Linked DNA regions of Homo sapiens: regions 2, 3, 4 and 5 are each linked to region 1. The links come from fine-mapping of genetic effects on gene expression. A gene starts in region 1. Each other region holds a variant in brackets. All regions are shown on one strand. Distances are between the middles of the regions. Region 1 holds the start of PRKCA (protein kinase C alpha). Region 2 overlaps PRKCA (protein kinase C alpha). Region 3 overlaps PRKCA (protein kinase C alpha). Region 4 has its middle 22 kb from the start of CACNG5. Region 5 overlaps PRKCA (protein kinase C alpha).

Region 1 (5,103 bases):
CCTTCAAGGGCAACTGATAGTGGAAAGACAATAGCTAGCCTCAGTATGCTGCAAGTCCCTTTCTAACTCTCCTACTTCCTGCAAAAGTCACCAGCAGTCTGTTCCCTTTTAATGGACTCTCACAGCTGACCTCCTCTTAACCAAATGCAATATTCTCTTTGCCCTGATGCTCCGAAATTTTTATTTTAAATAGCCTTATCTACGACTACCTACTCCTTTGAGCACAGTCGCTTCATATGCCGACTAGACAGTGGAAATCACTCATAGAGGTGGCTGTGCTTTTCATAAAAGTGTACTTGGGAGCAGATGTCTAAAAAGGAAAGGAAAAATTAAACACCTTATTCGCACCACGATCATGGGACCTGCCCTTTGGGATGTTTTTCCCCAGGTGTGATGGATTCCGACAGAGCCATCCATACTATGCTCACCCTAGTGGCCCAAGATACCTGTGCCACACAGCTGGCTGGTGGCAGGATTCACTCCGTGACTGCCACCCTGTGCAGCTCCCCCTGGCCTAGAAGGAGAGGGAGCTAAGAAGCCCTAGCCATAGCTCTGTCTTGCCCGGAACTTCCTACACCACAAAGAAGAGGTAGAAGAGTCAGGACGTCGGGCAACTTAAAAGAAAAACCAAACTACTGCTGCTCTAACTAGAGGACCTAGAGCTCCTTTAGTTCCAGCTTTCAAAACTTTTGTGTGGTGACGGGGATCTGGGAAGAAGGGTCACACACCTTTTGAGGATCAGATGAAAGCTGTAATTCTCTCACCAGGAAAAAGATTCACAAACACAATTTCCCTCAGTTTTACAGGGTTCAGAGACCCCTGAAGCCCTTCTATGTATCGATTCTCCATAAGCCCCCAGGGACCCTCCGAGTTAAGAATGCCTGAATTCATTGGCGATTACCTGATCTCTGACCTCTGGCCCTTATATTATTTTTCTTAAATAAGGCCTCTGCCCTCATCAACAGGGTTACAGGTCTAATCTCGAGTTGACAGGGTCTGTTTCATTTTTTTTGAGACGGAATCTCGCTCTGTCTCACCCAGGCTGGAGTGCAGTGGCCCGATCTCGGCTCACTGCAGCCTCCGCCTCCCGGGTTCAAGCGAGTCTCCCGTCTCAGCCTCCCGAGTAGCTGGGATTACAGGCGTGTGCCACCACGCCCGGCTAATTTTGTATTTTTAGTAGACGGGGTTTCACCATGTTTGCCAGGCTGGTCTCGAACTACTGACCTTAGGTGATCCGCCTGCCTCGGCCTCCCAAAGTGCTGGGATTACAGGCGTGAGCCACCGCGCCTGGCCGACAGGGTCTATTTTAAATGAGTCCCTCTGCCCTTGTGCCATTTGCCTGCTAGAACTCCCCCTCCCCCACTGCAAGCTTTCAACAGTTTGCTCTCTCTCTCTCTGCTCACTCAGAAAAGTCAGTCTCTCCGTGCCCAGTAGATGCAGCCTACAGTAGGCAGGGGCCCAAGATGCCAGCGCAGTCCAGCCCGATGGGAAGCACAAACACAACCCCCCCACCCCGAACGCGCCCAGCCTGGCTCGCCAGCAACTTGGACCGCGCGCAGTGCAATCGCCGCCGCTCCCCCGTTACTCCGGGGCGCGTTTCTCCGGGAACCTTTGCCCCCTTAGGGCCTCTCCTCCTCCCCTGTCCCCTGGGCTCACACCCCGGCAAGCGGCCGCTCCGCTGGGTGCGTGCGGGTGGGCGCGCCCGGGGAGGTGAGGGGCCCGGCCCGGAGAGGGATCCCCTTCGCCACCGTACGGGGCCAGCCTCCCTCTCGCGCCAGGGGGTGTGTGTGGCGGGACGGCGACGTCCCGGGAGTCCTGCCCGCCGGTGTCAGGGCCGGGCGCGCGTGTCACTCCGGGCGAAGAGTTCGGACTCCCGCCGGTTCCAAGTTATCGGAGTGAGCCAGCCCCGGGGCGGACGCGCCGGAGCGCCGGGTGCCGGGACCCGGAGGCGGGGAGGAGCGGGGCAGGAGTGCCCGGCCCGGCACCTACCAGATGAAGTCGGTGCAGTGGCTGCAGAAGGTGGGCTGCTTGAAGAAGCGCGCGATGAATTTGTGGTCCTTCACCTCGTGCACGTTCTTCTGCCTCAGCGCCCCTTTGCGGGCGAAGCGGTTGGCCACGTCCTGAGACGCCGTGGAGTCGTTGCCCGGGAAAACGTCAGCCATGGTCCCCCCCAACCACCTCTTGCCTCCGCCGGGGAGCTGCGGCCGCGGAGGGCCGGGTGGGCGGGGGCGGCGGGGGAGAGGTGCGGGCTCGGGGCGACCCCGGGCGCGGGGCGCGGGCCGGTGGCCGAGGTCGCGGCGAGGGGGCGCGGCGGGGGCCGGGGAGAGTCGGGCTGGTGCTGCGCGGAGCGGGAGCGGGAGCCGGAGCCGCTGGCTCGCCCGCTGGCCCCAGGCTCACTGACAGCCCGGTGCCCGGCGCTCGCGCTTCCTACTCGCGGCGGCAGAGGCGGCCCGGAGCGGCACCGCCCACCGCGCATGCCCCGAGCGCGAGGCCGCGAGGACGAGCGGCGGGGGCGCGCGGGCCGGGCGCGCGCGGGGGTGCGGCGAGGGTGCGGCGGCGGCGGCGCTGAGCGGACCGGACCGAGTGCGGAGGAGGCAGCGAGTGCCTTGCGGTGCTGGGAACACTGGGCAAGGGGAGGCGGCGGCGGCGGCGGCGGCGGCGGCGGCGGCGGCGGCGGCGGCCGGGGGAGGGCCGGCCCGAGTGGGGATGCGGGGGAGGAGGCCGGGAGTGGCGGGTCCGCGCTCCTCCGCCGCCTTTTTCTTTCCTCCCCTTCCTGCGCCCGGCTCTCCTCCCTCTCGCCCTCCTCCGCCTCAGTTCTCCTCCTCTTCTTCCGCTCTTGCCGCCCGGCCTCCTCCTCTCCCGGTCTTCCTTCTCCCACTCCCGCTCTCTCTCTTGTCGACGGGCTCGGAGTCCTGCGCCACCCGTGCCGGGCCGAGAGGAGCCCGCGTCCGGGAGTGGGCTCCACGCGCAGCCCCTGCCCCGGAGCCTCCCGCCCGGTGCTCACCTCCTAACCCCTCAGCACCCGCAGCAGGGAGCCCCTTCCCCATCCTCAGGACCCCCGGTGTCTCCAGGGCACGACGCCCGTGTTTTAGCTGCCTGTACCAGCTTGAGGTTTCACCTGGCCAAAATGTCACTTTCATCACGTGTGCACTAAAAGACCTAGCCCCTAGACCTTCCTACAGGAGGAAGAGAGCGATTTTTAAATAATTAAGCATTGACCCTTTCCCCTACCTTCTCTTCTTGACCTATACCTTATTTCACCTGCGTGTGGTAGAGACTTTTAATTTGTACGTCGGGCATTTATCACCACGTGGGATGGTTAAAGGACTTGTCTTAGGTATTTATCCCGTTATTCAATGGCCACCAGAGCGACGATGTTGATTATCAGGCTTTCTTGATTTTACAAGTCCAGGACCTTAATTTAGAAATCATTTTGCATCCCAAGCTAATTACTGCAATACTGTCAGGTGCAGAGTGCAGCCAGTACGTTTGTAACTTACCAAGTAAAACTGCCTGTGAAAGAGTAGCGGGCATGGCTATGCAAAGGACGCAGGTGGGGATGCACCAGCTAATCACTCGCTGAATATTTATCAGGTCTGCCTGGAGGCCGCTAAAATACATAAGGGAAATAATCATTTCTCAGCGTTTCATTGGTGTTTTGTTTTATTTGCCAGATTCACGAAATCCCCAAAACGACTTTACGAGCTAAAGAGACCAAGAAAGAGAACACGTTTGATCCTTCAATAAATTTATGTTGAAAAAAAAAACTTTTCTAAAATACTTTCTTAGAGCATGTAACATAGGCCAAGTAGAGCTAATATTGTTTTCTTTGAGATTGCCTAATTGTGATGCTTGATGATAGGAATGTCCTTTATATTTTTAACAAATGGAAGCTCTCCTGACTGGCCGTCAGTGGTGCATGCACTTGACTGATCCATTTACAATCTCTTGAGCCAGTCTTGGTGCTTCAAGAGCCTGCACCTGCCTGGTATTCTAGCTGGTCAGAAATTTCGCCACTCATGGTCGCCCCTCGGGTCCAAGGAGTCAAAAAGGGAAGAAGCAAAGAGGAATGAAGAGCAGGGCATGTTGGGGAAATAGTCCCAATTCTCCATGAAACACTAGAAGCATCTCAAGCCATGGTGGTTTATTGCTTGAAAGCAGAAATCAAATGGAACATAGTGGAATGAAATAATTTCTTTTCTCATAGTCGTCTTTTATCTAAGACGGAGATCCTGGCACATTTTACAAAGACAAGCTTATTTCTATGTCCCTGAGGCTTTCATAGGAGGATGGAGAGAGCTGGAGGGTGAAGTTGCTGATAATGGAATCCTGAGTAAAGTCATAGGAAAGACAAGAACAGAATGAGCCCTGGCAGCAGCCTGCGAATCTCCTGTGTACTCCATGGAGTGACTGTCTTAGCTGTCAGTAGATCAGATGGAACAATGTGTCTGTTTTCTTTTAGGTTGTGGCTTTGCATTCTTGCCTCAGTTGTTAGTGTTGTTCCTGGTGGGTACGAGGAGGAATGATTGACTGGAAGTCAACTGATTCATGGTTGGGCTGGGCATGAAAGCATCAATAGCCCACATCTTAGCTCAGTTGGGGAGAGGGGACTGTGCACCCAGAGTGGGGATTTATCAATTACCAAGCAGTGTAACACTGTCCCTAGCAAGGACTGATGGAAATGTGGGCCAGCATCTACTCCTGCAGCCTACCTGAAGTCCCCATGGTATAACTAAAATGGAGGAGATTAAGGACGGGAGAACCCCCTGGGTTGGGGGTAGTCAGTCAGTCATGAGGGCATGAGTAAATTTTATTTTCGAGTCTGCTATTTCATGGGGAAGGTGCGGGAAAAGAACAGGGAATGTCAGACTGAACGCAGAGTTTTTCAGAATCCGCTTCTGTCCTCTGCCTTTGAGGAGTAAGCTCAACACTGTTTGGAGAGGTGTCACCTAGACCAGGGGGACCCAGAGGCTGGAGGCTGGGATCAAAGTCAGACCACCAAACAGATGACTCAGAATCCCAATGGTTTGAAGCCAGCGGTCTTTCAGATACAATTTACAGCTTGCTGCTCTATGCAGCTAACTGGACTGTTTTCAAATGAAC
Region 2 (5,103 bases), 500 kb before region 1:
GTTGTCCCCAGTGTCTATTAAAAACTCGCAGAGCATCAGTCGGCCAAGTTCCACCTGAACTTGCAGTCATTCCCACGTGGACTCCATACCCTAGGAGCATGGGAAAATCTGGCAGTGGGAGATCAGGTCGGGGGTGCTCCAGCTGACCCAGGCTAAGTCCTCCTACAAGCTCCAGGGCATTGGAATCTTAGGAAATCGTCAGTTGCTTTGTTCTAAAAACTCATTTTTAAAGAATTATTATTAAAGTTCTCTATAAAAAAGTACAAATAGCCCAGTATATTCAGTTGCTCTACTGGAATTAACAAATAATTTCTTCCTTTAGGTTAAGAAAAAGTCTTTGGAATTTGGGGGCTTTTGTGTAGGGTCACTGTAAGGCTGTTGGATGGCTGAGTGTGACCTCCACGGTTATTAACTGTCACCTGATCACATAAATGGGAGGCACAGGGGTCAGAATCCTTCATACTGTTGACCTTCCCGAAGAATCCCTGACACTACGGAATTAACACAATTGTGGTTGACCCCATTTCTAGATGATGGCCTTCATCCATGTGTGCGTCAGGTAACCTTCCCAATTTCCTGGATCTTCTAGCAGCAGAAACAGGTAACATTCCCTGGATCTGCTGCATCAGCCCAAATGGGAGGAGACAGGAATGTTGACCGTCCAGTGTATTTCACATGTAGCCCAAGCAGCTTAAGGAAAATGACTTTAAAAAAATATTTTGGCTGGGCGTGGTGGCTCATGCCTGTAATCCCAGCACTTTGGGAGGCCGAGGCAGGCAGATCATGAGGTCAGGGGTTCAAGACCATCCTGGCCAACATGGTGAAACCCCATCTCTACTAAAAACACAAAATTTAGCTGGGTGTGGTGGCACGCACCTGTAGTCCCAGGTACTTGGGAGGCTGAGGCAGGAGAATCGCTTGAACCTGGGAGGTGGAGGTTGCAGTGAGCCGAGATTGTACCACCGCACTCCAGCCTGGGCAACAAGAGTGAAACTCCATCTCAAAATAAATAAATAAATAAATAAAAATTTCGCAACACTCCTTGTCAAATTGGTGTGTGGCCACTAACAACAGAGCACCCTTGTCCTTCCTGGTGACTGTCATGCCTACTGCTGTCCCGGTAACTCTCATGATCACACCCTTTGGGCCCCTGGCTCAGTGTCTGTTTTGTGATTACGATTGTCTGGTGTGCCCAGCAGGGGAAACAGGCACTCCTACCCTTGTCGGGTTATAAAGAAACAGGAAATGGTGTGATGTGCACACACAAGAAATAGGTGACTTTAGAAGACCAACGTGAGAAAATGACTGTCAGATGGTATCACCTTTCCGAGGCTTTTAAAAATACAAGATTGTCACTTTTTCTCTTTTCAGTACTGAGAAAACAAATTCCAGCAAAAAAAAAAAAAACAGGAACAAAAACAAAAAAAACCCTCCGAAATGTCTCCTGCTAAGTGGAACCCAGGTGGGAACTGCGGTGTTAGTTGTTAGTTGTGCGGTGTTAGTTGTTTTTACTTCTCCATTCATCCTCAGCTGCCATAATTCTTGGCAGGAAGCCAGAGAGGAAAATGGGCAGGAACCTACTGGCCTCTGGGGTACACTGGATGGTCTGGCTCTGCCCAGAGAACTATGAGCTACTTCAAGGTGGGGAGGGGAAAGGGGCTTCTAGCAGCTGGTGGGGATGTTGTTAGCATTTGGGGGGTGTTTTCTGAGGAGGAACAGACTGTGTCCCTGGCAAAACACTCTCTTGAGGGCCAGCAGACAGAAACTTCCATCTGCACCAACCACCTCCGATGGGAAGCCGTTGACGGTGGCACCCCTTCCTCTCCCTCCTACTGCAGGCATATTTCTGGATGCACCCAAACCCTGTTCTTCTCTGGCTCCTTCCTGACTACAGCCCCCGCCTCCCTCTCCCTTCTCAGCACGTCCGTTGGGGGGGCTCTCTGGAAGTCTGCATCCTCCTTCCAGGAAGTCACCACACTCGCCTAAGGACTTTGGCTCCGAGAGGTGCTCAACAATCATTTGTTGGGCTGCATGAACCTTGGTCTTTCCGGCCAGGCTTCCAGAGCTCTTGGCCCCATGGTTTTCTATCAAAATTCTGAGTAAGAAAGCCTAATACGTGGCATCAGAAAGGGCAGACAGTGGCCCTGCATGGACCACACGAGGCCAGTGGATGAAAGGAAGGGAAGCACTGCCGGAGCAATAATTTTGACTCCTGTGGTTTCTGATCTGCCTTTTGAATTAGTTCTTGCCTGGATGTGGGCCTCTCATTAACCTTGGAGGGCGGCCCCTGGCAGCACTCCAGTGACTTCCTTTCAAACCCAGCACCTGGTGACCTTCAATTGAAATGCCAAGAGACGGGCTGCCAGCCCACGGCCTGCAGCCTCAGGGAAAGGCCCTGCCACCGAGGAGTGGCCACCTTCCAAGGGAAGATAATGCAGAGCCATTTGAATGGCCTGGTGTGGTCATAGCTCCATGGGTCCTGCGGGGATTCGGACGGTGCTAGATTCTGCCAGGCGGCCTAGACCTCCACAGGCCCTGGCAATCAGGCAGTGCTCAGGGGCAAGGACTTCCCAAAGCATCCCCCAGGGACCTCCTGCGTGGCTGCGGCAGTTCCACAGCGCACCCCTCGCCACCATCTCATTTCACACAATACCCACGAAGGGGCCAGTACCATAGAATTTTATGAACTGATTCTGAGGCGAGCCATTGCTCATGGTTATCTACATGACAGTCTTCCAACAATAACTGTCTTTGGCTGCTGAGATCTGGAAAGCCCTAACCATTACCCACATTCAACACTCAGCAATGGATAAAGCAGGTTCCACATGACAACACTGCACCGGGCCCTGATTTTGACTGTTTCTCTCTGGGGGTTTGTTCTGATGTCTGTTGTCCCTCAGGCAGTGTGCTG[G/A]GCACCCCTGTCGGGGCATTTTCTTGGAAAACTTTGCCATATGGTCTGAGAGAGTAACAGCCAGCTGAGACAGTGAATGTGTTTCCTAGAGAAACAAACTTGTGGGTGTTGGGGTTGCAGGGAAGGCCTAAGCCTGCTGCCTGCTTTAAACAGGCAGGCTGTTTGGGGTGCTGAACAAGGGTCCCTAACCTCATGTGTTCCTCCGTGGGATCTTCCTCCTCTCTGGGGGGCCTCGTGGGGGTCTGTCCTGCTGCTGCTCCATTCTGGGCAGGGGGACTGGCCCTTTTGTCTCCTAGGCTCTTTCTATAAACCAGTCCCTTTCCCCTCGGATCAAAGGAGGAGCACCTGGTCAGGACACGAACCCAGATCATGCACTGACCTGCAGGGCTGCAGGGACAGGGGAGCCAGGACCCCCTGGAGTCTCGATGTCTATGGTGCATAAAAGATGGCAGAAGAAATGGTTCTTTTCTGGCCGGGCCCGTTCCCTACCCCGTCTCTCCTTCTACTCAGGGTTGCCAGGACCACCTGGGCCTCTCACCTCAAAAAGCCTTTCATGGTTGTGTGTTCTGTGAACTTCAGGCAAACAGCCAGAGGAGAAAAATAATGCGAGCTTAGCTGGGAGATGCTTCTGGGAGGAAACAGAGCGGCTCTCTACAAGGACTGACAGCTACTTTCATTCTGTTTCTGTTTGTGGTAGAACCCGGCTACTCTGAGGACCTTGCATGGGGGTGTCTCACCAAAGCAGCGCGCTCCTCCCAAGACTGGAAAGGCCAATGCCACAATGGCTGGAAGAAAGTCCGCAGCCTCTGAAAAGCACGTGCTGGTGCCTGCAGGGCACGGCTGTGTTGGTCTCACGAAGTTTGTGCATGCTGGAGCAAACGACAGGTCGTTGCAGAGGCAGCAAGACAGCATGCTTCCTGCGTGTCCAGTACACACAGCAAGAGGGGAGTCTCCCCATCCCTCCCACCCCTGGAGTCAGCAACAGTCACAGGCTGAAGGGAAGAAGGAAACACACACACACGCACACACAAAGGTCAGCCCAGGTGCTGCGGCAATGCCACGTGTGTACCAACGTACTAGGCAGACTGGAATCAGACACTTCCTGTTGTCCCCAAGAGGAAGAGTGGCGGAGGAACCAGGACGAAAGGTGACATGAAGAAACTAAGAGGGAGTGTCAGCTCAAAAATAGTCCTCACCAATAAAAATTTGTTTGCAGGTAGAATCAAATACATATATATACACACACATATGTAGTAAGAGCCTAATCTATCACGTAAACTAGCCATTCATTTTTGAAATTTTATCTACATTTAAAAAGTAATCTATCTGATACAGTGCCCATGTGCAGGGAGGGAAAGCACAGAAGCAAGGGATTCAGCTAAAACTTAATTAGAAAAGAGGATTAGAAACAAGAACCTGCACAAATAGAGCACAATTGTGTCTTATAAAATTATTATAATACTCTCTTTATACTTGATACGATTATATCAATAATATAGATTCACTTGTTATTAAGGTTTATTATAAACATGCAAAATTCATTGCATGATGCATTTGCAAAACGTATTAAAATCCTTCTATTAACAAAACATCTTTGAGCTGTTAGGCATCCGGGTTTCCTGATTCTACAGCTCCAGGCCTGTCATTCAACGTGAACTAGAAATGGGAACCAAAACCATATTCTTTTTATCCCTAAGTGGACATCCAGGGCTAGAGAAGGGAGGAAAATCAATCGGTAGAGGCTGATGCTAGAGTCAGCACTTCCATTAAGTTACTGTACATCGTACTTTCATAAGCGACACTGCAGCCTATTAAATAAATAAGCACAAAAGGGGAGAGGGCGTACACTTCAGCTTCTTGAGAAGGATAACAAGGTAGGCAGCAAAATGTTGGTGTGTGTGGGGGTGGGTGTTGGTGAACAACACTGGTGAGTAGTGGCATGATTACTGATGGCACCCTGGATGGAAAAATAATCTCCCAGAGATTAAAATGAACATATGTACACACTGGCTTATCCTTGATCTGAAATGATTTCACACGCTTGTTCAGCAACGTCCTTAGACGATTTGGCCTCTTACAAAGAATGAAAAGTATCAAGACAGTTATCAACCAAGGAGGGTACCAGATGACAGATTCACCCAACACTCATCTGAGGTTTTTTTGTTTAAACTGGTAACTGCTGGACCATGGTT
Region 3 (5,103 bases), 360 kb before region 1:
AAAGTGCTGCAATTACAGGTGTGAGCCACCGCACCCAGCCCAGAATGCTTCTAAATGCAGACTTCTTTTGGTTAATTTTGTAGGAACAGAGTGCATTCCTTTTCATTTGAATGCTCCATAAATTTGGTCCTATCATATTGAATTAGTGCTTCTTTTTCAATTTTTTCTTCTTTTATCTTTGGGACAAAGCTATTATTCTCAATTTATATCCTGTTCCCAGTCTTCCATTTTTCATTATTCTCTCTTTCATCACCATGGTTTTGTCCTTTTGCCTGCATTCTAGAAGAGCTTCCCAGGATTCTTGCACAGCGCTGATTTGATTTTCTGCAATGCCAATTCTGCTGTTTGTTGCACCACAAAGATTTTAATTATGTACTATAAATTTCCTTACTGGAAACTGGCATTTACTTGTCCACTTCCTTTCATCTTTTCTGTCTCTTTATATAGCCCACTATCATTTTAAAAAATCTCATTCTGCTTGCTTTTCCTCTCAACCTGTTTGTTCAAATGGCATTATGTTCCTGTTTTACAGAGATTGTGCATTTTTTTTTTTTTAAAGAGAGGGTCTCACTATGTCACTCAGGCTGGAGTGCAGTGATGAGATCATAGCTCACTGCAGCCTTGAACTCATGGGCTCCACAATCCTCCCACCTCAATCTCCTGAGTAGCTGGGACTACAGGTGTGTGCCACCATGCCTGGCTAATTTTTAAATTTTTTTGTAGAGGCAGAACTTGCTATGTTGCCCAGGCTGGTCTCAAACTTCTGGCCTCAAGTGATCCTTTTGCCTTGGCCTCCCAGAGTGCTGGGATTACAGGTGTAAGCCACTGTGCCCAGCCTCCTGCACCCTATTATAATGTGTATGGAGTTTTCTCAAATACTCTTCTGTAATTTCTTTTCTTCCAATAATCTATATTCAAATATGTTCTCCATGATACTATCCCTTTATCTCCCATGTTTTAAAAATGGGCCCCATATTTTGGGTTTGTTTTCTTTCTTTACTTGTCCTCAAAGACAAGTACATCTAGATGTGTTATTTGCCCAAAGATACTGTTTGTATGCCACATTGGCTCTATCCACTGTCTACTGGGACACTAGAGAACTTGCTTCCCTCTTCCAGGGCACTCAAGTTGATGTTCATGGCTCTTAGTCCAATGACGAGTGTGTTTTTGCTGGAGCCAGGTAGGATCATATCCAATTCACAGTGCTTGGTAATTCCAATTCACAGTGCTTGGTAATTACACATCTTGAATCTGTGAAGTCCGTTTAAAGTTAGAATCCCCTGACCCTGAAGTTCTTCTCACCTCCACACCTGTGTCCACTATACTTCGCTTGCAGAGCTGCTAACCCTCAGGACATAACTCACCAACAACAGCCCTTTTCTTTTTCCTTTGGAAGTTACAGTCTATTTGTAGACTGTATGGAAAGATGAGAGAAGACACTATTTTGGTCCTCTGAAATGAGAGAAACTCCATAGCAAAGGAGTGCCTCCCAGGTTTTTTGGCTGGTCGAAGACCCTGTTTATCTGAGCAAAAGGGGAGGCCCAAAAAATCTTCTTGCTTTCTTTCAGGTGTGCAGGACTTTGGTTTTTTCATGCATCCAGTATGGCCAGACCACTGATAATTGTTTCTTAACACTTGACCACTGGGCTAACGGGCAACAGAAATTTCTCCAAGGTGGCAGTAAGTGGTTTGCCAGTCTTGATCGTGGGTTTCTGTCACTTCCTGAATCTTCTTAACATTTCAGAGGGACATAAGAGAGATTGCATTTCAGAGGTTACCAACTGGTTACCGCAATTCAATCCAGAAATGCAAGGATATCTCGATTTCTTAAGTAGCTCTTGGAATTCCACTGTTTCTAGAAAGTCTGGTTAATTGGAAGAGGAATAAATTACTCTTGGCCACTCACTTCACATCTAAGCTGCCTACCATCAGTTCTCATGGCAGACACTCTTACCTTTGCTTTCATGTTGTTAACTTGTCCCTGTGTGGG[T/G]GGCTTTTGAATGTGGTTCCTTGATGTGGTTTGGCCCTGTGTCTGCACCCAAATCTCATCTTGTAGTTCCCCTAATCCCCATGTGTTGTGGGAGGGACCTGGTGGGAGGTAACTGAGTCATGGGGGCAGTTACCTCCATGCTGTTCTTGTGATAGTGAGTGAGTTCTCACAAGATCTGATGGCTTTATAAGGGGCTTTTCCCTGCTTTACTCTGCACTTCTCCTTGCTGCCGCCATGTGAAGATTCCACCATGATTGTAAGTTTCCTGAGGCATCCCTAGACATGCTGAACTCTGAGCCAATTAAACCTTTTTCCTTGATAAATTACCCAGTCTCAGGTATGTCTTTATTAGCAGTGTAAGAACGGATGAATACATATGCCTCCAGTGTGGTCTGTTCTTTAAAGGCCAAGGCTGTATCTGTTTAACTCGATTTGACATCATCCTGGTGGCCATTTTACCTCCTAGATCCCTAACCTCCAACTGAACTAAACACGCAGACATTCCAGATGGGATTTAAAAGGTGGCAGAGGTGGGGGAAGGGACTGGGCAGGGACCTTCGGCTTGCTCTGTCCTGCTGCTCACTTTCTTGGGCAATCTTTAGTGAGTTTTTATATTCAGTCTGGAAAACAAAGGAGTTGGCTGGACAGGGAAATCTCTAAGATTCTTTCTACTGTGAACAGAAGCTGCTTCCTAATCCATTTTCATAGCACATGATTATGCCTTCGTTTTCATGGTATCACCAAAGTCTACGTTACTAGTCTGGGTACTAGATAGTTAAGGGTCCTTCATATAGTCCTTTGTCCTGGAAATAATCTCTAAATTTGTGTGTGGGGGGGGGATTCAAAGGGTTCCCTGGAGAGGCATGGAGAGTTACGACTACTCTTTCTCCTAGAAGGTAAGATACAAAATTCTACATATCATTTATCTGACAGACAAAGAGTCAGATTTTGGGGAAGGCATTTTTGCAAAGAATGAAGATACAGGAATACTTATATAGCCCTTTATATAACATCTGTTGAAATTTGGAGCCATAATGAGGTGATTCTCCCTTCCTTGGGTAGTAGGAAATGAGGAAAGCAAGATCTTTCTTTGGAAATCAACAAACTACTGGATTCATCAATATTGGATCAGAGCAGAGCTTCTCAAAGTCCCCTGAAGGAGAGAGGGTTCTGAGAGGTACTAGGCTTGTAGGACCAGCTTGTGTCCAGTATGAATATGTTCAAATGAGCAGCGAGAAAGCAGAGGCTCCAGGCAAATGTCAGCAGAGCCTATGACACAGGTCCAAGGAGCGGCATCTAAGCATTTGACTTCAAGTGCTTCTGGCCCCAGCAGCACAGCAGCCGCCTCTAACTTGAGATGAATGTTAAACCTTAGTCTGCTGCCATCCAACATTTATCACATCCCCTTGTTATAATTCTATGTTTGCTAGGCAGCATTCTGAGTCCCCTCAGGTTTGTCTGTAGGGGAGAAGGCACTCCCAAAGCGGATTTCTGCTCTATGTAGTCTATGTGATGGTGCTTAATTTGACAAATCAATAAAATGGGTTCATTATGCCTTGCCTGGTATCTTCTCTACACTGATTGCTCTCATCAAGTCACATGGTCAACTTTATTGTTCTCTGTAAATTCATAAACTGGCATCCTGATGGACTGCCCAGTCAGGACTACATTGGAATTGGTCTCTAGGGGCCTGGTCATCCCAAGAGTGAACCTGGGGGCCTTCAACAGGAAAGGCCAAAATGAGCTACACGCCACTCCTCTGTCTTCAGATGCTATTGCCTTTCCTAATGTGTGTGCTTTTCTGGATAAAGAAGAACTCTAGTTTTAATAAATTCCCTCCAACACCATCCCAAACATATAGACACTTGTATGTTTTTAAGTAAATCTAACATACCGCAAGGCTAGGAGCAAAAATACCCATAGCTGCAGGTCTCAAATGTTAGGTGCCTAAGAACCACCTTGGAGAACTCACTAACAATAGAATTTACTTGCAGGCTCTGCGCTTGTTCTTAGAGAATCTGATTCAGGAAGCCTGGGGTGGGGAAGTACTCTACCCCACTCCAGGTAGACCAGCAGCACACTTTGAGAAATCCGGCATGGAGGAGTGAGTGCTTAGCAGGTCTACTCAGGTGACTTTAATGAGCCATGGGAGGTACTTGGACCCCCTCTTGCCACTCCTACACTCAGCCCCAAGCCCAGCGATGCTCCCTTCTCAGGGCATCTCCACTGTGCAGGGTGTTGGGAGGATGGTTCTGAATGAACACTCATGCAGGTGACTCAGCGTATACCAGAAAACCTTTTGGTCATGTTCTCATGGAAACTCTCAGGACACAGATAAAAATGTTCTGCCTAGATTCAAGTTCTAGCTCCACCTTGTCACCTGGCAAGTTCCTGAAATCCTCTATGCCTCCATTTAAATGAAGGTAAGAGTTTCATGCAATAGGAACCGTTTAAGTATTAAAAAAGATTATACAAGTAAAACCCTTGGCATAGTGCTTGGCACAAAATAAGCACTTAATAACTCTTAACTTCTGTAATTATCAGTATCATCCAGAAAAAACCCTCCAGTGTTATTCGGACACACACTGAGAACATGCTGGGTCCCAGGCACCATGAGTTCGGGGATTCTGCAATGAATAAGACCCATAAAAATCCTGGGTTCATGGAACCAGCACTTCAGTGGGGATACAATTTTCTGCTTTCAGGGTTGGCATATAAAACTGCAATGAGCCGGGCACAGTGGCTCACACCTGTAATCCCATCACTTTGGTAGACTGGGGTGGGAAGATTGCTTGAGGCCAGGAGTGTGAGACCAGCCTGGTAATGTGGTCAGACCCTATCTGTACAAACATTTAAAAAATTATCTGGGTGTGGTAGTCCCAGCTACAGGGGCTGAGGCAGAAGAATCACTTGAGCCCGGCAGCTCATCATGGCTGCGGTGAGCTATGATCGCAACACTGCCCTCCAGCCTGAGTGAAACAGCAAGACATTGCCAAAAAAAAAAAAAAAAAAAAAAAAAACCAAAGCAAAACAAAAACCCCAAAGAAACAAGAAATTGAGATGAATCTCTCTTCATCATGAGATGACGAATCTCTCTTCTTTGATGATGTCAA
Region 4 (5,103 bases), 510 kb before region 1:
CACCTGTAATCCCAGCACTTTGGGAGGCTGAGGCGGGTGGATCACAAGGTCAGGAGTTCGAGACCAGCCTGGCCAACATAGTGAAAACCCGCCTCTGCTAAAAATACAAAAATTAGCCGGGCATGATGATGCAAACCTGTAGTCGCAGCTACTCGGGAGGTTGAGGCAGGATAATTGCTTGAACTCGGGGGGTGGAGGTTGCAGTGAGCCAAGATCACACCACTGCACTCCAGCCTGGGCAACAAAGTGAAACTCCGCCTCAAAAAAAAAAAAAGTCATAACAAAATGTTTAAAGGATGTGTGTGTTAACATCTGTGATCCTAGCTTTCAGTGACCAATGTCAAGGCCCAGTGGAGTCTCATAAGAGGGCTTTGAGGTTGATATGGTTTGTCTGTGTCCCCACCCAAATCTCATCTCGAATTGTAGCTCCCATAATTCCCATGTGTTGTGGGAGGGACTCAGTGGGAGATAATAGAATCATGGAGGCGGTTTCCCCCATACTATTCTCGTGGCAGTGAATAAGTCTCGTGAGATCTGATGGTTTTATCAAGGTTATCCCTTTCAGTTGATTCTCATTCTCTCTTGTCTGCCGTCATGTAAGACATGCCTTTCGCCTTCTATCATGATTGTGAGCACCCCACCCCCAGCCACGTGGAACTGTGAGTCCATTAAACCTCTTTTTCTTTGTAAATTACTCAGTCTCGTGTATGTCTCTATCAGCAGCGTGAAAACAGGCTAATACCATGGTACAGTCTTGAAAAGATAACAAGATGATGAATAATAAATAAAGTTAGCAAGGAATCAAAAAGTTTAACCATCTTGGGAAGTTGGGATTTTCTTTTCCTCATCTGTATTAGCTACAATAAGCAGGTGTTATTTTTTGTAAATTTTCCAAAAACCCAGAAGCATTCCCACAGTATTCTGACCTAACCAAGCCCAACCTTTCCTCCCCGGGCTGCCCAGTGCCCCCAAGAAATCAGTGATTTCTCACAAGTTGTTCTGCTCACTGGATGATGCTTGCCTTGGATTGTTTTTGACTCCTGGGGTAGGTGGAGCTGGGGTCTCAATGTAGGGCTGTCCTGTGGTGGGAGGGGGAGCCTGGGGCCCACCAGCCGTTCCTGCCCGCTTCCTCCTTCCTCCTGGGCCTTCCAGGCAAGTCAGTCAGGTGAGGGCGGCTGCAGAGGCACCTGCTGTGTTCTGAGAACTGTGATGCTATTTTTCTCTCTCCTCCCACGCCCAGACAGCTCCAAAAAAAAAAAAAATGTCGAGAGAAGGAGGGTGATGGTGGAAGAAAGCCTTCTGGAAACAGTTCCAGGAGGGCATCTAGTCTCATAGGCATCAGAGTCAGCTAAGGGCAAGGAACATCCCCCTTGGTAATAGGATGGACTTTGAATGAAACCACAGTGGGGGGAGAAGTTCCCCAACAGGGTCTGGCCCTGAAGCTCCCTACCCAATGCTACATCTGACCCTCTCATGGGACAAGGCTAGGAAGATCAGACTCAGTGCCCAGCCTGGCTGTGCTGCTTAGGAGTTGCGTATCTGGAAGCTGGTTAATTACTTTGGGGTTCAGTTTCTCCATCTGTGAGATGTGAACAATGGCCTCCAGCCCATGGAGGTGTCATGAGGATTAAATGAGATGGGTGTGTTCAGATGACAAGCTAGGCACTGCGCGCATGCCAGCCCTTCCCCTCCTCCCTGCGTGCTGGTGTCTGCTTGTTTGGGACCTCTCCTTTCCAGCCTTTCCATCAGACCTCAGCCTCCCTGCCTCCTCCCCCAGGAAGGCATCTGGCGTGCTCACATCTCTGCTCTTTCGGTTGGCTCCATTTGTCTGGTGTTGTTCACCTATGTGTTGTTATTTAAGTTCCCTGGAATTCCCTTTCTTCTTCTGTAAAATGGGCACAGTAAACAGCACCTATCTGGGGGCAGGGGCTGTCATTGTGGGATTGAAATAAATGCACATAAAGAACTTAGAAGAGTGCCTGGTACACTTCTGGTAATCAATCAGTGTGTGTGCCTCTGTGTGTGCACATGTGTCTGTGTGCATGCGTGTGTTTGCGTGTCTGTGTGCATGTGTGTGTGTGCATCTCTGTATGCATGTGTGTTCGTGTGTGTGTGCGTGCACAGTTTGCGCGTTCCCATTTACAGCCCCCTTTAGACTTTTGGTTTGTGCCATTTCCACCTGTCTGTTGAGTCCCTGAGCCCACCACTAGCTCTTTCATTTCACTAGAACCATTTTCCA[C/G]TTTCTCCCCTTATGGCTAGAATAGGCCTCTTTGCAATGTATTTATTGAATTAGCTTTGTTAAAAAAAGAATCTTGGGGAGACATCCAGTTCTGCTTTCTTAGAGCCAAAAGCACTTCTCACCCACTCCCTGCAGGCAATGCCCTGCTCTCTGTGATGTGCACTCCCAGGATGGGGACAGAGTGTGAAAATAGATGGCCTTGGCCTTTGCCCGTGTGCATTAGCATTTTAGCTGAACCATAATTTCATCCCCAGAGCACACAATAAGCCAGGGGCAGGGGGGAAGCTCAGGGAGTTAAATAATCACTCAAGTGTAACCATAGGCAGCCATCGCCTCTAGATTCTGGGCTGAAGGACAGAGGTTGAGAACTGGTGTTTCCTAGGCTGAAGCTCATCATGAGTTTGAGAGATGATCTTTAATTAGTTCTTTTTTGTATATCTTATCTACTTCATTAGTGTGTGAACACCTCCAGGGCAAATCCCATGGCCCAGTAAGGGTGTCTGGAACACGTTGCTAGGCTCAGAGCAGTTTTGGGAACGATTAATTGACTCAGTCATTCAATGAACATTTTGAGCTCCTATTATCTACCAGGCTCTGCTCTAGGCACTGGGATGTAGCAGCAAACAGGATGGACAAGCCGGCTCCTCTTAGAGCTTCTATTCTCATGGGAAAGGGTGTGCGTATACACACACACACACACACACACAGAGAGAGAGAGAGAGAGAGAGAGAGAGACAGAGACAGAGAGAGAGAGAACTCACTCTCCCCAACCATTGAATCCTTGGTCCCAGAGCTGGGCATGTGAGGATGAAAGGCCATGAGGAAGGCTGGGTGATGGGAGCCACAGAGGGCTTTCAACAGGGAAGGGGCCTGCTCAGGCAAGGTCCTGCTGGCTGCTGAGCAGAGAGGGCCATGAGGGTCAAGGAGGCCAGAGAGAAAGAACAGGGGAGATGGAGAGAAGGGGAACTCGGAGTGTGTTTTAGAATAGGGTTTGTAACAGCAGCAGCGCCGACATTTGGGTGGGATGACACCTTGTTGAGGGCTGGGGGTATCCTGTGCATGGCAGGATGCTTAGCAGCGCCCCTGGCCTCTACCCACTCGATGCCAATGCAACTTCCTTCTAGTTATGATAACCAAAACAGTCTCCAGGCATTGCCAAGTGCCCCGTGGGTGGCTACATGGCCTCTGGCCGAGAACCCTGACTTAGAGTAGCCCCAACAGTGCCTGCTCATGAACTTGATGGGCATGGTGGGCATGTGACAGGGAGGCCAGTACTGGACAGAAGGACTCGTTTTTGAGCATCCACTTTGGGTGGCGCACAGTGCCCCTGGAAGAGCAATTGTCCACTGCCTGGTGCTCAGGTTGTCCCTGCTGCCTCTGTGGGGCCGGGAGGACCAGCCATATTGGATACACCCGAGACCTCCCTGCAGGGGTAAACTTGGGTGGAGCTACTCAGTTCCTCGGGTCACCAGCTGCCTGTGAGGATGCTGCTTGGTGGCCCACTCTGCTTCATTCCGCATTGCAGCAAAAATGAAATAAAACAGCACACTGGCGGAAGCAGAGGGCATGCTCAATGGCCATGGTAAGCTACTCTGCTGGGCAACGTAACGTGACGAATAGCCACAGCTACACACGTATGTGAGGTCAACCAGCCCGGAGTGAAGGTCAGGGCCAGCCCAGTGGGGCAGAGACCACATTGCTCTGAAGACCTGAAAATTGCCCTTTGTTTTTCTTCAAAATAGCTTCCCCGCCAGCCCTCGCATTGGCAGCTGAAAGAGCCTTCACTTCCAGGAGGTTGAGTGTGACCGCGGCATCTTAGGGAGGGAAAAATCCACTGAGAGGATGCTGACACTCGAGTAATCTGGCTGGGAGCAAGGCCCAGAGGGAAGAGAACGCAGGGAGGCATGTGTGTGGATGCAGAGTGTGCTGGGAGGAACAGGCTGGGCTGGGCGGCTGCAGGATTAGGGGGCTATGGGAGGGAGGGTGGCAGCAGTGGGTTGAAGCCATGAGCACGAGGGGAGAGCATTCCCCAAAAGGAGGTGAGGAAATCAGCAAAGATTGACTTTACCAAGGTTGGATCTTGGCTTTGGTGTTTGTTGTTGATTTTTTTTTTTAAGAGACAAGGTCTCCTTCTGTCACCCAGGCTACAGTGCAGTGGTGCAATCGTAGCTCACTGCAGCATTGACCTCCCGGCCTCAAGTGATCCTCCCACCTTGGCCTCCCAAAGTGCTGGGATTATGGGCATCAGCCACCATACCCAGCCTGTTTTAATTCTTTTTGAGGACAATTCCCTCTATTGCGTTGAGTTGTTAAGTGCTGGGTATTTTTGAATGTTCCACATTTGAACATTTCCCCCAATTTTTCAACCGTGAATAAATGCAGAACGAGGCGGCTGACACTCAGAGTGGGGACGGTCCTGAAGCTGCATCCACAGTGTGGCCAACGGGATGTGTGAAAAATACCTATTTTTGGAGAAAACATCTCCAGACTTGAGCAGAATTCATTCTGGAATCGTTCCTTCCAGGGGAAGGGCACCATCCAGCCTTAGATGATGTCATCAGTTGCTGGGCATCCCTTGCAGTTTGGGGCAGAAGACTGTAAGCTCCGTGCAGGCAGGGGCCATGCCAGCCTCTTCTTCTCCAGGGCCTGACACAACTCCTGGCCCTAAGCAGGGGCTCTGTGAACAGTGCATGAATGAATGAACGCAGGACCTGCCAGAACGCCATCCCAGTCACTGTCTGGGCTTTGATTCAAAGCAAGATATATTTTTTAAGTAAAAAAAAAAAAAAAAAAAAAAAAAAAATGCCACTATAAATGGAGGGTCATGCCTGAAAAACAGGTGAAGAGATGAAAGTGTTCTGCGG
Region 5 (5,103 bases), 62 kb before region 1:
AGTCTCTGGCTTCCAAACCATCATTTTTCACCTGTCCTCCCAGCTCTCACTAAGTCTTTTATCCACAGGTGTGACCAGGGGCTTTTTCTTAGCTCAGGTTCCAAGCTGAGGAATTCTTGGCCAAAGGCCTGCGCACTTGTGCTGAACAGTGGGTTTCTTTGTAATTCCTAACATCAACTTCCACAAAGCACACTTTTTGTTTCCATTAAAGAAATCAGATTTTGTGAACTCACCATGGTCCTGTTAGAAACTTATCAAACTCCTAAATTGTTTGCAAATTGAGGCCAGTTATAAATGCCTTGCTTTTGGCACGCTGAAAGCAATGTTTTCAAAAGATTTTACTTTCATCCAATTATCTGAAAACAGAAAGGAGAGGGGAAGAGGGCAACCTGAAAACCTGAAAAGATCATTTTGACATGAAAATTATTGTTACATGGAGACCAACGTGGAGTAAAAACCTCACCTGTTCCTCTCAATGCATGTCACAATTTAGATGATGATTTAATTTAAAATTTGCTCACTATGAAGTGCTTTTTTTAAAAGACTGATTTTGGAATTTTGTGAGTGTGCTTTGTCTCTAACTTAAATCATATTGAGTCAATAATTTCTTCAATCCACAAGAGATACACATAAGATTTACTGGAGTAAAAATGTCTCATCCTTTCTTTTCAAGGAATTCAGCCAACAGAGCAAGCCAGCTACTCACAGTTCACCTATAGCTCGCTCTACCCATTATGCAGCTGGCCTGTGAGTTACTTCTCATTCTCCTTTCTCTTCTAGTTCTGCTAGCTCACCCCTTCAAACTCACTGCTATTATTTAACTTTGACAAATTTTCTACAACTAATTCATCTCCTCAATTCAGCTAATAGGTCAATTAAGATCTCTTCCCAGATTGTGTTTTCTCTGTAGAAAACAAAACTGCCCAATCGCCTTCTAACTTCAGCACCACGCCCTGAAAATAAGACCACAAAGGCAATTTACTTTTAATAAGTTAGTCAGGTGCATATCCCTATGAAAAAGCCTCGCTGGAAAACAGAGTAATTAATAAAAGCCTCAGAAAATGGTGTAAAAAAGTTTGCTTTAAAGCATACTTTCTACCTATAGCAATCTATATTTGTACTTATTAAAGACCTTGTAAGGCTTCTGGATTTTTTTTCCTTTAAGTACTGTAAATTGCATCATGAATAAAACACATAAAAAGATCGCCTGTGTTGACATCTAAAAGGTTATCTATATGATTGTTATCCTTAAGGGTACACACTCTAAAAAGCAGGAAGCTTTTTAGAGCTGATCACATTATGACAATCTGCAGGGATGGTTCCAGTGGCAGATTTACAGTTCTCACAATCTTAAGGATAAAGCAAACTTCAAAAGTACAAAGCATATTGGTCACGAGATGGACACCTAATACAAATGTCTCCATTCACATTTCTCAGACTACTCAGGAGAGACAACAGTTGCCTATTTGAAATGTTTTCTGCATAGAAACAAAAGGTAAATGAGTGCTGCCTTGCTGTCAATGCTCAATTCATAACAACAAAGAAAAACCATGGCTCAGATAACGTTAATTGGTGCATAATAAATCATTTATGTGAGCCTTTGGCATGCGTTTAATACTTCTGCTTAAATAAGAAAGCATACGATAATCAGGGAGTATTAAACATTCATACGTCTGTTTTCTCAGTGGATATATGCTCAGTAAGATCAATTTTCTGTCAAGGAGAATTATCTTCATTTTAAGAAATATTTATTGAGCGTTTAGGATTACACAGGACTTATTCCAGGTACCAAAGAGTATACAAAGAGTTAATCTATTTGGAGGAAGTAAATATAGCTGCCTATAAGTAACTATAGGATAAAGGCAGAGTAAAATCATCAGTAAAGGGAAGCCATTTAGTGGCTAAGAGCACAAAGCCTGGGTCAAACATATCTCAGGCAGTTTCCTCTGAAAAGGGGATTAAATGAGATCATGTACCTAAAGGGCTTAGTCCAGGGCTTGGGTCATCTACTCACACCCTCTCCTTTTCTTCCTCCTACTTAAGCTGCAGGAAGCCAGCAAGACGGATACACCTTCCTCCCACTTCTCTCTCCTCCCTCCCGTAGAATACATTTAATACCAAGACTCATTATCCCAACTGTCTTGCTCAATAGATGCCAGAAATCCAACAGAACACTGAATTTCGGGACTTTCCAGAAAATCTGCCCTAATTCTAGTGAATTCTCCCCACAAAAGCCACAAGAAAACTCCACTTATAAAGGC[G/A]AGAGCCTATTCTAGGAACTTCAAGATGCAAAGATAAATGCTGCTTTTACAATGTGAAGTCCCCTTTTTCTTTTCTCCTAAGGTTTGGGCTGCAATGTGTCTTTTCAAAGATTCTTACAGATAGACCTTTGGGGACTTTTTAAACACATACAATGGAAACTACTGCTTTTCAAAAACCTGGTACAATTAGATTTTACCTTCTTCAGTTCTGAAACAGTATGCAAGTGGGAAAATAGTATTCGAAAGCCTTCACTGAGCCACTCACGTAGAAGAAAAAAATCACATCAAAATTGGTCTAAAATCAGATGGGGTTATGCAGAAAACCATGATGGGATAGAAAAGTGGAAATGAAAGAGAAAACAGAAAAATCACTGGCTGAGTGAATCCATTAATGTGTGCCTGAGGGAGCCCCGTCAGCAGCCAGGGAGAACTGGAAACCCCAAATCAGGCGAAAACCATACTGCATCATACGTTACGGGCAGCTGCCAGGCATCAATCACACCCTCCCTGCTCCCGCACTCCCCCTACTTCAATCACATTGACTTTTGCTACTTTTTCTGGTAGAGCTGGCATCTTCCGGCCTCCACGTCTCTGTTCTTCATTATCGTTCCCTCTCTCCTCTTCTCCATACAGGGCTACTTGTTTAAGGTACATCCATTCCCTAAGATCAAATTCAAATGTTACTTCCTTGATTCCTATTTTTTGGCACAAAACCCCTTTGGTTTTATGCCTCTGGAGTCATTTATTTTGTATATTTTTTATGGTAAGTGACTCCCTTGTCTGTGATTCCTATGAATGAATAAATGAATTTACTGATTGATTGAGATGGGGTCTATGTTGGTCAGGCTGGAGTGCAGTGGCTATTCACAGGTGAGATCCCACTACTGATCAGCATGGGAGTCTTGATCTGCTCCAGTTCTGACCTGGGTAGGTTCACACCTCCCTCAGGCAACCTGGTGGTCCCCGACTCCTGGGAGGTCACCATATTGATGCCAAACTTAGTGCACTCAACTGGCACAGTGCACTACAGCTCAGTGCTCCTGAGCTCAAGTGATCCTCCTGCCTCAGCCTCCTGAGTAGCTGGGACTACAGGTGCACACCACTGCCCTTGGCTATAATCTCCTTTAAAAAGCCCATTCCAGGCCAGGCACGGTGACTCATGCCTGTAATCCCAGCAATTTGGGAGGCCAAGGCAGGCAGATCACAAGGTCAGGAGTTTCAGACCAGCCTGGCCAATATGCTGAAACCCCATCTCTACTAAAAATACAAAAATTAGCCAGGCATGGTGGCACGCGCCTGTAGTCCCAGGTACTCGGGAGGCTGAGGCAGAAGAATCGTTTGAACCCGGGAGGCAGAGGTTGCAGTGAGCCAAGATCGTGCCACTGCACTCCAGCCTGGGTGACAGGGTGAGACTCCGTCTCAAAACAAACAAATAAATAAATAAATAAGCCCATCCCTAGTTTGTCCATTTCTATATCCACCCCGTGGCTAGCACAGTGCAGAGCACATGGAAGATGCCCCTTAATTGTCTGCGTAATTAAATTGGCTTTATTGGAATAGCGCTCTTTCTTAATGAATTTACTTGTAACAAATACTATGAATTCACTAAATGATAGATAATTTGCCTCATTAAGAAATCATGACTTATTACTTATGGAAAGAAAGGAGCTGCCTTTACATTCGGATGGCTGGTTTGCTTTACCGAGGATAAAGGACAGCAAATCCCCAAGGCCAATACCAACGCTTCATTTTTCTGGTCTCACACTAAGAAAATCAGTAACTGTTTCCTCTAAGATTCCTTCCATGCAACTGTAATGGGAGAAGATTACCCTGTGTAAATGAACTTATGGTAAAATAACAAAAGGGTTGACTAAATAAAATAACAAAACAATAAAACACACACAGATAGACATGCAATGTTTACTACACAATTTGGCTAGCTGGTGCTCATCTTTGCAGTGTCTTTTCATCAAAATGTACATACCTGTGAAAGCAAAACAGGATGAATTTTAGTGTGAGTGAAAGGATGTACAACTGCTGGGATGTTTGGGGCACTTTAAAACTTTCTCCAACAGGTAAGATTTCTAAGACCTCTAGGATGCTATTCTGACAAAACTAGACATTGAGGTGCCTAAAAGCCCGCAAGGCAGCCAGGCACAGTGGCTCACACCTGTAATCTCAACACTTCGGGAGGCTGAGGCGGGTGGATCCCCTGAGGCCAGGAGTTTGAGACCAGCCTGGACAACATGGCAAAATCCCATCTCTACTAAAATACAAAAATTAGCCTGGCATGGCGGCACATGCCTGTAATCCCAACTACTCGGCTGACTGAGGCATAAGAATTGCTTGAACCTGGGAGGCAGAGGTCGCAGTGAGCCAAGATCGCACGACTGCACTCCAGCCTGGGCTATATAGACTGAGACTCTGTCTCAAAAAATTAAAAAACAAAGAGGAAAAAAAAAAAAAAACCTGCAAGGCACCTCACTAGTTGAGGGAGACAGAAAAAATACATTTCCCCATCAGGTAAGATCAACAGACTTCACCTGTTATCTCCTGTGTCCCAGGCCCATGAGACACAAAAGTGAGACTTATCTCAACCTTAAGGAGCTCAGGATCCAGTGAAGGCATCCAACAACCACCAGGCAATTATAACATTGAACATTGGAAATCGTGGGACAATTGAGCAGAGGACAGATGACACCCAGCCTGGAGAGCCAAGAGGCATCAGGAAGGCTAAAGAGTGGGAGAGTCTGCTCAGAGGAAGTGGCACTAAAAGGTACAGGTGAGAAAGAGCTCAACCCAGCTGGGCATGGTGGTGGCTCATGCCTGTAATCCCCTGCAC

Evidence for each region.
Region 2: its variant is fine-mapped to the expression of PRKCA in whole blood (TOPMed, PIP 0.91).
Region 3: its variant is fine-mapped to the expression of PRKCA in whole blood (TOPMed, PIP 0.94).
Region 4: its variant is fine-mapped to the expression of PRKCA in unexposed skin (GTEx, PIP above 0.99).
Region 5: its variant is fine-mapped to the expression of PRKCA in whole blood (TOPMed, PIP 0.95).

Annotation. Positions count from the first base shown.
Region 1 is chr17:66,299,911-66,305,013 of GRCh38, reverse strand. PRKCA (protein kinase C alpha) reads right to left here and starts at 2,401. Exons shown (of 17, transcript NM_002737.3): 1 at 1,990-2,401. The coding sequence starts at 2,162. RefSeq lists an enhancer at 1,106-1,607.
Region 2 is chr17:66,804,627-66,809,729 of GRCh38, reverse strand. It overlaps PRKCA (protein kinase C alpha), which reads right to left. Exons shown (of 17, transcript NM_002737.3): 17 at 1-5,103. Among named protein-coding and RNA genes, the nearest start is that of MIR634, 20 kb to the right of the region's middle. RefSeq lists an enhancer at 1,961-2,810. The variant G/A (reference allele first, on the strand shown) is at 2,912.
Region 3 is chr17:66,664,555-66,669,657 of GRCh38, reverse strand. The region is part of intron 5 of PRKCA (protein kinase C alpha); the gene reads right to left. Among named protein-coding and RNA genes, the nearest start is that of MIR634, 120 kb to the left of the region's middle. The variant T/G (reference allele first, on the strand shown) is at 1,991.
Region 4 is chr17:66,810,837-66,815,939 of GRCh38, reverse strand. No RefSeq gene overlaps it. Among named protein-coding and RNA genes, the nearest start is that of CACNG5, 22 kb to the left of the region's middle. The variant C/G (reference allele first, on the strand shown) is at 2,240.
Region 5 is chr17:66,362,300-66,367,402 of GRCh38, reverse strand. All of the region lies in intron 2 of PRKCA (protein kinase C alpha), which reads right to left. It also overlaps the pseudogene RN7SL735P. Among named protein-coding and RNA genes, the nearest start is that of PRKCA-AS1, 52 kb to the left of the region's middle. The variant G/A (reference allele first, on the strand shown) is at 2,262.